Linked DNA regions of Homo sapiens. The protein of the gene in region 2 interacts with the protein of the main gene of each other region in a pairwise test. Each region holds a gene or a part of one and is shown on either strand. Other genes may lie near its edges. The genes, in order: LNPEP, HSD17B11 and GOLT1A.

Region 1 (3,655 bases), on a different chromosome or scaffold from region 2:
CCCATTTGTGAGCACTTAAAACACTCCACAGAGTCAGACAGTGGGAAAGGTCACCCTTTTTTTATTCGGCAGGTATCAAGTTAGAATGTATGGAATTGTGAATAAAATTATATTTTATTTTATGAAAATATTTTTATATAATAAAATTTAAAAGGCTGGTAAGCTAAAAAAATAGTCTTCTTTAATCCTAGTGTGTTTTCCCCAATTTAGTCTTTTCTAAAATTTATCTGTTTTAGAGTAGAAAATATTATATCCTGAGAATCACAGAATCATCTAAATATGTCTTATTCAACTGAAGTGATTGTAAGTCTTTATTCTTGTGCTTTGGTTAAATGAATGATAATTTAGTTGATAGTGAAAGTTAATGTGTTTTTATATTTTTAGAGTGAGGGAAAAATACTAAACTTTTGAGAGTTTTGTTGTCGTTGCTGGTTTTTTACCATGTGGTACTAAATTCCACTTTGATACAAAATTTAAATTTTGTAACTTCTCAAAATCACTTAAGATTCTTCAGTTTTACCTGTGCTTCTTGACATCGCTCCTATAATGTATGTTAGTTAACTCTGCATATGGCAAATCTTGTCTTGAATTATATCATTTCTCTCCCTCTCTCTCTCTCTCTGTGTGTGTGTGTGTGTGTGTGTGTGTGTGTGTGTGTGTGTGTGTGTGTAGTGTGGGGGGTATTGTTATGAGTAAAACTTTATCAAAACTTGGCCTGAAAAAGAGATAACTCATGATCCATTGCTATCTTTATTACTCAAAGGCTGTTCATTCCCATAATACCAGATCCATAATAGTTGTAGTTTTTTTGATGTTGTTGCCCTTACCTTAATTATTTGTAGTTTTAGTAGGCCTTGCCTCAGTTTTTCCCACAGAATTCCATAATTTTAATGTTGAACTAACCCATCTATATAGGACTTCTAAAAACTACGTCAGGAATGTAAGGTTAAATGAGAGGTAGAACTTGTAGTGTAATAGGTATAATGGTAGCTTTCAAAGTTTTATCTTCTCAAAACATTGTCTTAGCCAGTGTATTTCTGAGAACTCAGACTGAAGCACAGAAGTCACAGTATGCTTCTTTTATTTAAGCACACAGATTCATGACACAAGTACTTGTTGAACAAGTGTTCTCATTGCAGAGAGATCTACTTGAATATAAAAGGGTCATCATACTAGATTATTAAAAAAGAATTGGAAATCTTGAGTTGTGGAAGAAATGTTTATGCTTTGGAGATCTAAAAAAGTTATGAATGTAGGAATTAGATAAGTCCAGTTTGTTCTGTTAATATAAAATGGTTAGATATATTAAACTGCAAGTAGTATCAGCTTCACCATAAGCTTGGGCCTTCCTCCATCTTGTTTTATTTAAGTCTCTTTAAATGAAATTTTGTTGTCATTGTTTCAGCATTCATGAACTTTCTTACTATCACAGGTTCTACTTTAATTTTCCTTGCCATATGTGTTTCCATTTTGTGGGACATTAGCCACCACAGGAACACAAGAGTTGTCAGAAGACTCCTGGGTGTACAGAGCAAATCAAGCTGCATCAGTATTATAGGATACCAAACAGAATCCTTTCTATTAGGAAATAAGAAATCAGTTAAGTGTTGGCTGGGCGCGGTGGCTTATGCCTGTAATCCCAGCATTTTGGGATGCCAAGGTGGGCAGACCATTTGAGGCCAGGAGTTCTAAACCAGTTTGGCCGACATGGCAAAACCCCATCTCTACTAAAAATATAAAAATTAGCTGGGCATGGTGGTGCACACCTGTAATCCCAGCTACCTGGGAGGCACGAGAATCACTTGAACCCAGGAGGCGGAGGTTGCAGTGAGCCAAGGTTGTGCCACTGCACTCCAGCCTGGGTGACAAAGCGAGACTGTCTCAAAAAACAAAAAACAAAAAAAAAAGAGTTAAGTGTTGATTTTGTTGGATTACTGACAGTTTGTTGAGATGGATTTTAAAAAGAGTCTATTTAAACCAAAGTACCTGGAACCATAATCTGCCATCAGATTGCTAAACATTCACATAATCCCCATGTTTCATGGGGCTTCAGGGAAGGCAAATACATCTGAGATGAGCCACCTCCAAGGACAGCATTTCCTGGGCTGCAAAACTAGATGTGGATTTTGTTACTTAGGCCTCTCTAAAAACTGAGGCCATGGATATGACATAGCTTTTCTTCTCACCTATGCCTTTGTTACTTTTGTATTTATTGGAATTAAATCTCTTTTTAAAGAGCTTCCTTCCCCCTTCATCCCATTTGTATTTTTAAAAACTAAGTTATATATATATTTGCTTGTTTTTGCATTCTTTTATTTTGTGCTCCATTCCCTGCTTTGCCAGTTAAGTACTACCTGAAAAGTAGCGGTTCAAAAGTATGGTAAATCTCCTCCCTTAACCTTATTGCCTGTGTGGGTGACAGCTAATGGAAAAGTTGATCGATTTTTTTCAGTGGTTTTTTTGGGAGTATATACTTTAAAAATGTACATACATGTTTTTGATAGTTTTTATATTATTTCATTTTGTATATTTTTTTCCTGATGAAGAGTGATATATCATCCTATGAAAATTTCATCTACCCTTCCCATTTTACCTGTATGGGCAGTAGCTACAGACTAGTTATTTGGTTTCCTTCTTTGGAAGAAGGTGGTGATGTTGAGAGGAGAGCAAGCTATATTCTTTTAAAAGTGTGTACAGATGTTTTTGCTATTTTGTGTTATTTCATTTTGTATTTCATTCATCCATTTTGTGGACGTGTAGATAAAACGCGGTGGTCCAAAAGCATGACAGATGTCCCCTTTGCGTTTCTCCTTATTGTTCGCATGGACAATAACTGACAGAGTAGTCCTAGTTGCTGTTGTTTTGATCTAGTCTTGGGGCTGGGGTTGTATATTATTCTTTCAAGTGTGTATAAATATTGTGCCACCTTTTTATACTTCATTTTATACTTGTTTCCTTGTATGGATGCATATATACTTAATGAAAATTGAGGTTCAGAGTATGACAAATCTCTTTTCCCTTTTCCTTACTGCCTATTTAGGCAATAGCTAATAGAGTAGTTTGTTTTGTTTTGGGGTGTGGGGGAGAGTGGAGTATGTACTTAATGTATATAAATAAACTTGCTACTACATTGTATTACTAATTTGGTTCACACTGTGTCCTTCTCATGGATGTGAAAGTACCAATGAAATGTGGAGATCTCGATGTATAACAGTCTCCCATTCTCCTCATCCCTTATTGACTGCTGGGCAGTAGCTAACAGAGTAGTTGTCAAGTGGCGTATTTGAGGTGAGGGGGAGGGACGGGGAAGGTAGGAAAATGCACTTAATGTATATACATGTTTTTACTACTACATTGTATTAATTCATCGGGTGCCCAGACTGAAAGGTACCTAATGAACCATGGAGTTCCGGATGTATAACAGTCTCCTCTTTTCCCTTTCCCTTATTGCCCATGTGGGCAATACTTAAGAGTAGTTTGGGTTTATTGAAGATTTTTTGCTAGGAGAGAGAAAATTTTTTGCTAGGAGAGGTTTCAAGGTAAGAGTATATACTTTAAACATGTATATAAATGTTTTTGCTACTTTTCTGTCACTACCTTTCTTACCTTGTCCTTTACATGGATATATGAAGAAAATTGAGGTTCAGCCTGTAGC
Region 2 (3,655 bases):
AGAACCGGTCTGACCACAGATTTACCAGGGCAAAGTTTTTCCCCACCCTAATAAGCCTGATAGTACTGCAGGAGACCAGGGCGTATCTCAGTCCTTACCTCAACCACATAGGACGGACATTCCCAGAGCAGCCATTTATAGACCTCCCCGTAGGAATGCATTCCTTTCCCAAGGTATTAATGTTAATATTCCTTGCTAGGAAAAGAATTTAGCAATATCTCTCCTACTTGCACATCCGTTTATAGGCTGTCTGCAAGAAGAAAAATATGGCTCTTTTTTGCCCGACCCCACAGGCAGTCAGACCTTATGGTTGTCTTCCCTTGTTCCCTAAAAATCACTGTTATTCTGTTCTTTTTCAAGGTGCACTGATTTCATATTGTTCAAACACACATGTTTTACAATCAATTTGTACAGTTAACACAATTATCACAGTGGTCCTGAGGTGACGTACATCCTCAGCTTATGAAGATAACAGGATTAAGAGATTACAGGCATAAGAAATTATAAAAGTATTATTTGGGCACTGATAAATGTCCATATTAAAATGAAATCTTCACAATTTATGTTCTTTGCCGCGGCTCCAGCCGGTCCCTCCATTCGGGGTCCCTGACTTCCCACAGGAGAAAAAGAACTTGTTTCCCTTTATTATCATAACAGTTTCACTATGCAAGCTACTAATTCTCCCCACAGCTGTCCAGATTTGGCCTTTCCAACATTAGTTGCCATTTACAAATGTGTACACTGATTCACCATCCTCTCTGTGGATAAATGTATGAGTCCTCCTAGGGTCTGCCCATTAGTGCATTAGTTGACAATTATTAGGTTGATGCAAAAGTAATTGCAGTTTTTGTCATTAAACTAATGGCAAAAACAGCAATTACTTTTCCAACAACCTAATACTTGGCCTGCAGAATGCACAATACTAGATCTTCATCCAAAATATCTTTTGAGACATTCTCTTAAAAGTTAAAAAAAAAAAAAGGCAAAAATTGGCCAAAAGCAAACAAGCAAAGATAACAACAACAACAAAAAACCCCAATGGTATGATCCTAAACTTAAGTTGACTCAAAATTGGCGCCCCAAATTGGACTCATAACCCCTTTTCCTCAAATCTGCTGTCATCTCTGTCTGACATGTGGCAGCGTGATCTTGCCAGCTACCAAAACTAGAAAGCAAAGATGTCAGATGTGGCTCCTTCCCATCCTTCCTCATCTACTCACCAAGTCTTACTGATTTTACCTTCTAAACATATATTTTAAAGGATATTCTTTCCTCTACATTTTTTCTACTAATGCCACATTTCAAGTTTGTGTCATCTATTACCTGAATCACTGTAACTGCCTCTCAGTTTTTTTCTTCCTCCAGTGTTGACCCCTAAAATCCACCCTCCATACATCAGCCAAAATAATCAATACGACACATAAACCTGACACTATAATTTAATCAGTGGCTCCTCATTCATTTTTTGATAAATCTTAATATGACATGTGGGACCTTAATCTGAACTTCTTCTGGCCTTGACCTTTATGATCCATCCAACAACACTAATCCTACTAGTGGTTTCCACAAGACCAATCTCCTATCTGTCATTGCCCACACCCTGCCTGATGTGTCCTTTCACCCTGGGGAAAGCAAGTGAAAGGGCATGGCAAACCACTGCTGGAATTGTATTGTGTGCCCCTCTGTGTTCCCGTAACTCCCTGTATAGAACTCTGCTGTGATACTCATCACAATGTATTAGGTTGAAACTGCCAATATTCAATCTTTTATTATCAAAACAATAACAGTATTACGTGGTCCTACTTAACTATGATACTTATGTTTCTTTCTACTACACAGAGAACTTCTTGGGGTCGGGACTCTACCTCATTCATATTTGTGTCAAGGTTTTTCTAAGCTCAGTGAATATGACCTTCACATTAAAATGCTGAAAGAACAAATGGTTTAATGAACTGTGGTTAACTCATTATTTCTTTTGCAGACAGTAAACTGACATCCATGAATAGTTTTTAATGACATGGAAAAAAGTTTAATGTTACATTTTTTAAAGCCTGATATGGAATACACAGAGATACCAACATTCACAAAGTATTCAAAGTTCATAAATATAAAAACTAGTATTTTAAGATTTTTATCTTCTTTTAAGAAGCTTGCTTTAAATTCAGCTCCAAATAAAAGAAGCTAGTCAAAATACTAAAAGCAAAATGTGCCTATATACCTGCCAAAAATGTGTTGTTAACAATCTTGCCCAATTCAAATGGAAAGAATCTCACTACTTTTTAAAAATTATTTTTAATTATTTTCAGCTGTCGATATAATATGTTCATATCAATTATTACCTTGCCCTCTTTTTTGCTTTTTCTAGCATGGACTGGAGGAAACAGCTGCCAAATGCAAGGGACTGGGTGCCAAGGTTCATACCTTTGTGGTAGACTGCAGCAACCGAGAAGATATTTACAGCTCTGCAAAGAAGGTGAAATGTTGTGTTTAGTTAGAATCATATCATGTTAGAGCTAGGAGGTGTTTTGGAGATGACCCAGTCTGTACATGATATAGATGAAGTACCTGAGAAATGTTGTTATTTGACCAAGGTTATAGAACTAGCTCATAGCAAACCCAAAACTAGAACCGAGAACTGAACCTCTCAAATATTAGTATGTTCTGGAATTTTCCAGGGAGTTGTTAAAAATGTATATATATACTCTTGGGCTCCACTTCCAGAGATTTTCTTTCAGTAGGTTGAAGGCAGGGCCTCAAATACATCCACCCTGCCTCCCATGCGCCTTCATCTCACCCATGATGCTCATATAGGTAACTATGCCTGGATGACACTTGCAGAATTGCTGACAGGGTCTTCTGAAGCCCATTCATAGAATTGGGTTAGAAAGTTACAATAAAGCTATTCTTTATCAGGTTTTTATTGTAGATAGATCTATTTCTTTTCTTTTCTCTTTTTTTTTTTTTTTTGAGATGGGGGGTCTCACTCTGTTACCCAGGTTGGAGTGCAGTGGCATGATCTCGATTCATTGCAACCTCCACCTCCCAGAATCAAGCAATCCTCCCACCTCAGCCTCCCAAGTAGCTGGGACCACAGGTGTGTGCCACCACGCCAGCTAATTTTTTGTATTTTTGGTAGAAAACGGGGTCTCACCATGTTGCCCAGGCTGATCTCGAACTCCTGAGCTCAGGGGATCCACCCACCTCAGCCTCCCAAAGTCCTGGGATTATAGGCATGAGCCACGCTCCCAGCAGATCTATTTCTATAAAGCATTATTTGCCTCTTCTAGATACAATTGAGATGTGCTGTATATAATGGGGTTTCACTCTGAACGCATTCTCGCTTGTACCTGTTAACTAAATACCTTAATGGCAGCAAGGTCATCAGAATTACCTGGGCAGATTCCTTAAAATACACATTCCTGGACCTTACCCCTGGATATTCTAATTCAGTGCAGTATAAAAAGTGTGATTCAGCAAGACTTGAGAACCTCTTTGTTTATGGAATTTTTGGTTTGAGTTCTTTTTTTTTTTTTTTTTTTTTGAAATGGAGTCTCACTCTGTCGCCCAGGCTGGAGTGCAGTGGCGTGATCTCAGCTCACTGCAAGCTCCACCTCCCGGGTTCACAAGCGATTCTCCTGCCTCAGCCTCCCTAGTA
Region 3 (3,318 bases), on a different chromosome or scaffold from region 2:
TGAGGCCTAGGCCATTCAGGCTAATCAGGGGGTTTCAGGGCTGCCTTCAGCAAACGGGGGCTCCTGTGAGAACCTGGGGATTCCTGAGCCCCACACCTTTCCATGATTGCAGAAGCCATCATTCTTCCAGGGTCCATTGTCCCAATCCCACCCCTATTCTCTCCACACCACCGTGTAGACATATGAAGTCTTCCTTCCCACCCCCACTTTCTCTGAGACTCCTTCCTTCCTTTTCCTTCAGTGCCCTCCAGTCTTCTCTTAGACCCTACCCATCCCTCAAGGCTTCTCTCAAGTCCTGCTTCCTCTATGACACTACCCTGGGCTCCCCTCTAAGTGCCTACAGGCCTGACAGTGGCCACACATCATGGCTGAGTTCCACCCTGCCTTTTCCCAGGCCCAGGGCTGACACAGGCCTGGCCAGGGGATGACACAGGGGTCAGGAGCCAGAGCTCCCTGGGTTAAGGGCGACCTTTTTCACATACTAGTTTGAGACTTTGGGCCGGGGGCAACTTCTCTGAGTGTTGGTTTCCTTATCTATGAAGTAGAGGATAATCCTATAGTGGGTTGTTGTGATAAAATAAGATGATGATCATGAGTGTGCCTGGAACATGTTAGCTCACTGCCCTTCCTCTCCGGCTGGATCACTGAGATTTGAGGGCAGGCCTCGTGTCTCTTCCCTGCTCACAGGCACAGTGCTGGGGGCACAGTGCTGGGAACACAGTCGGCACTCTATCAGTATTTGTTGATGGATGGGCTAATCCCTCCAAAGTACCCTTCAGCCTACTTTAGGGGGCCTTTCCAAGGTGTCCATGGTTCTCATCTCTTGCAGGATAAAGTCCCAGCTTCTGCACTCCCTGCTGGGGTGATCTCAGCCACTCAGACACTTTGGTGGGTCTGTCCAGGGTTATAGGGATTTGCACTCACTTAAAGAGGCTGAAGAATCCGTAGGTTTCCAGGAACATGCCGAGGAGGGGCCAGCGTAGGAGCACGATAACCACACCCCCCAGGAGGAAGCTGGTTCCCTTGAGTTTGTGCCGTTGGAAGAAGAACCAAAAGGTCTTCCTCAGGCCAATGATGAGGGACAGGCCCGTCAGGAACAGCAGCTGTAGGGGAGGGAGGGGAGCATGAAGCAAACCCACCAGCCCCCTGAGGAGTGAGGGACTTAGGCCTGGAGCCAGGCGGTGGGCTGGGACAGGATGTGCTAACTGTTCAAGACCATCTGAGCGAGGGCCATCCAGCAGTGTGGCAGAATCCCAGAGCCTTGATAAGTCTTGCTGGCTGGGAACAGGACTGCGCAGAGGCAGGGGGATGGATGAGAAACCTTTGACGGTTTCTAGTTGCCTACCCAATTCCCTGGAGCCCAAGCATTTTTCATATGGGACTTGGTTTCTCACCATACCATCTGGGGAAGATGGAATCGGGAGGGATTTTTATTCCAAAGAAGTGAAGATTGAGGCCTAAGTAGGTTAGGCAGCCATACTGAAAGTCACACAGAACCTTCAGAGGCTCCACTGCCTACAGAATAACCCTCCAGTCCCTCCCCTGGATGCCCTATCACCGTCTTCAGCTTGGCTCCTAATGAATCCCTTAAGAGTGCCCAGGCTCTCATCAAATTGAACTCTCTGGTTTTCTTCCAGCATATCCCATGCTTCCCTGCTCCTTCCCCACACCTTTTCTCCTGCTGTTCCAATCCCCCTGGAAGTGCTTTATTCACCTCCACACCCATTTCCTTTCCAAATTCCTCTCCACCATTCTCCAATTCAGTGTGCCCTCTTTCCACTAAGCCCCTTGTTTCATACTAAATGTGTTTACCATGGCCCCTGCCTTCCTCCCAGCCATGTATGTCATGTTATATCTCTAGCCCTAGAGTGGGATTCAGATGGCAGGGACAGTGTCTGAGTCCTCTTAGAACCCCCAGGGTCTCGCCCAGAGCTCGGTGTGAGAATCCAGGTCCTCAGATTCTTGGTGCCAGCGGGCTCTGCGTCCATTTCCTGTGCCCTCCTCTGCCCAGGCTTGATGATGTCTGACCCCTGGATAGGCATGGTCTGAATAAACTTGGGATTTACTTAAGGGATTTATTTAAAGACTTAAATAAACTGTAAGTCTTTATTGCCAGGACTATCCTGGCAATAGAGACTTCAGAAAGGTTGGGGCAGGGGAGTGGGGACACAGGGCTGGGAGACTCACGTTTCCAAAGGCCAGGAGCACGGAATCAAAGTACAGGAGTGTTCCAAAGAGGATGAAGAAGATGCCGAAACCGGTGATCCCCACACCAATCTCTGCAATGGGCAAGGAGGTGGTGGAGGAAAGGGCTTTGGGGAGCAGGTGGGGACCCTGAAACTTCCCCCATTGCCACAGGACAGGTGCCCTCTATGGGGGTGACTCCACTTCCATCCAGGAATCTCAGCTTTCATGCTCTCAGGGGATGGTGGGATGGGAAGGGGAAGGTAGGATGGCATGAAGCTTTGTCTGGCACCTGGGAACTGTGCTGTCACTTCTGTACACAGTGGCATGCTGTCCTCACTGCAGCCCTGTGTGGAAGCTGGTGCTGCCCTGACCACTTTATACTCTCAGCCTCCTCTTGTCCTCAAAAGCCACATTATCCACATCAGTATCAAGGCTGAACATAGCATCTGCTGCCTCTGCTCCTGCCTTGTGCAACTGAGAACCACTGGAGCCCAGCCCACACTGCGCAGAAGGGAGCCACTGAAAACTCAGGACCACCAGCTCCAAAGAGCCTCAGAACCACCCAGCTCTCCTGGTCCTTACTCAAGAGGCTGGCCCGCCTGAGCAACTCTCCACACTGCCTCCTTCCTCCTCAGAATTGCCCTGTCTCCACTCTCAGGTGGTGACATTTCCCACTGGATTGGGAAAACAGAAGTCATCAGTTAGGAATGCATTCCTCTTCTCAGCTGGGACCTATATCCAAGACCCAAGCCTGCACCTGCTCCCATTGTCCTCCCTCCCTCCTGCAGCAGGCACCTTGCGGGCCCCCCACACACTCTTCGGCCAACTCTCATTTCAGCCCAGTGGCTTTGGGCAGTTCTGCCGAGGTTGGACCCACACTGACAATGAGCCCCCATTCCCAAGGTTTGACAGTGAGCCCCCATTCCCAAGGTTTGACAGTAAGCCCCCATTCCCAAGGTTTGTAAGTGTCTCAGGGCATTCTTTGAAGCTGCAGGAGTTCACTCAGAGCCAGCAAGCGTAGCCTAGAAGTGCAGGACATGAAGGCCCCCTCGTTTGGTCAAGGGCTACATTTTTGACATTTTGATAAACATATTTCAGATCGCTCCCCTCAAGACGATTTGTACAATAACC

What was found.
Region 1: the proteins of HSD17B11 (region 2) and LNPEP interact in binary tests that used the Homo sapiens proteins (3 or more experiments, as listed by UniProt).
Region 3: the proteins of HSD17B11 (region 2) and GOLT1A interact in binary tests that used the Homo sapiens proteins (3 or more experiments, as listed by UniProt).

The regions. Positions count from the first base shown.
Region 1 is NC_000005.10:97,030,000-97,033,654, forward strand, and holds part of LNPEP (leucyl-cystinyl aminopeptidase), read left to right. Parts: 3' UTR 1-3,655. UniProt on the Homo sapiens protein: Release of an N-terminal amino acid, cleaves before cysteine, leucine as well as other amino acids. Degrades peptide hormones such as oxytocin, vasopressin and angiotensin III, and plays a role in maintaining homeostasis during pregnancy.
Region 2 is NC_000004.12:87,381,073-87,384,727, reverse strand, and holds part of HSD17B11 (estradiol 17-beta-dehydrogenase 11 precursor), read left to right. Parts: intron 1-2,365; coding exon 2,366-2,473; intron 2,474-3,655. UniProt on the Homo sapiens protein: Can convert androstan-3-alpha,17-beta-diol (3-alpha-diol) to androsterone in vitro, suggesting that it may participate in androgen metabolism during steroidogenesis.
Region 3 is NC_000001.11:204,200,709-204,204,026, forward strand, and holds part of GOLT1A (vesicle transport protein GOT1A), read right to left. Parts: intron 2,280-3,318; coding exon 2,188-2,279; intron 1,104-2,187; coding exon 925-1,103; intron 1-924. UniProt on the Homo sapiens protein: May be involved in fusion of ER-derived transport vesicles with the Golgi complex.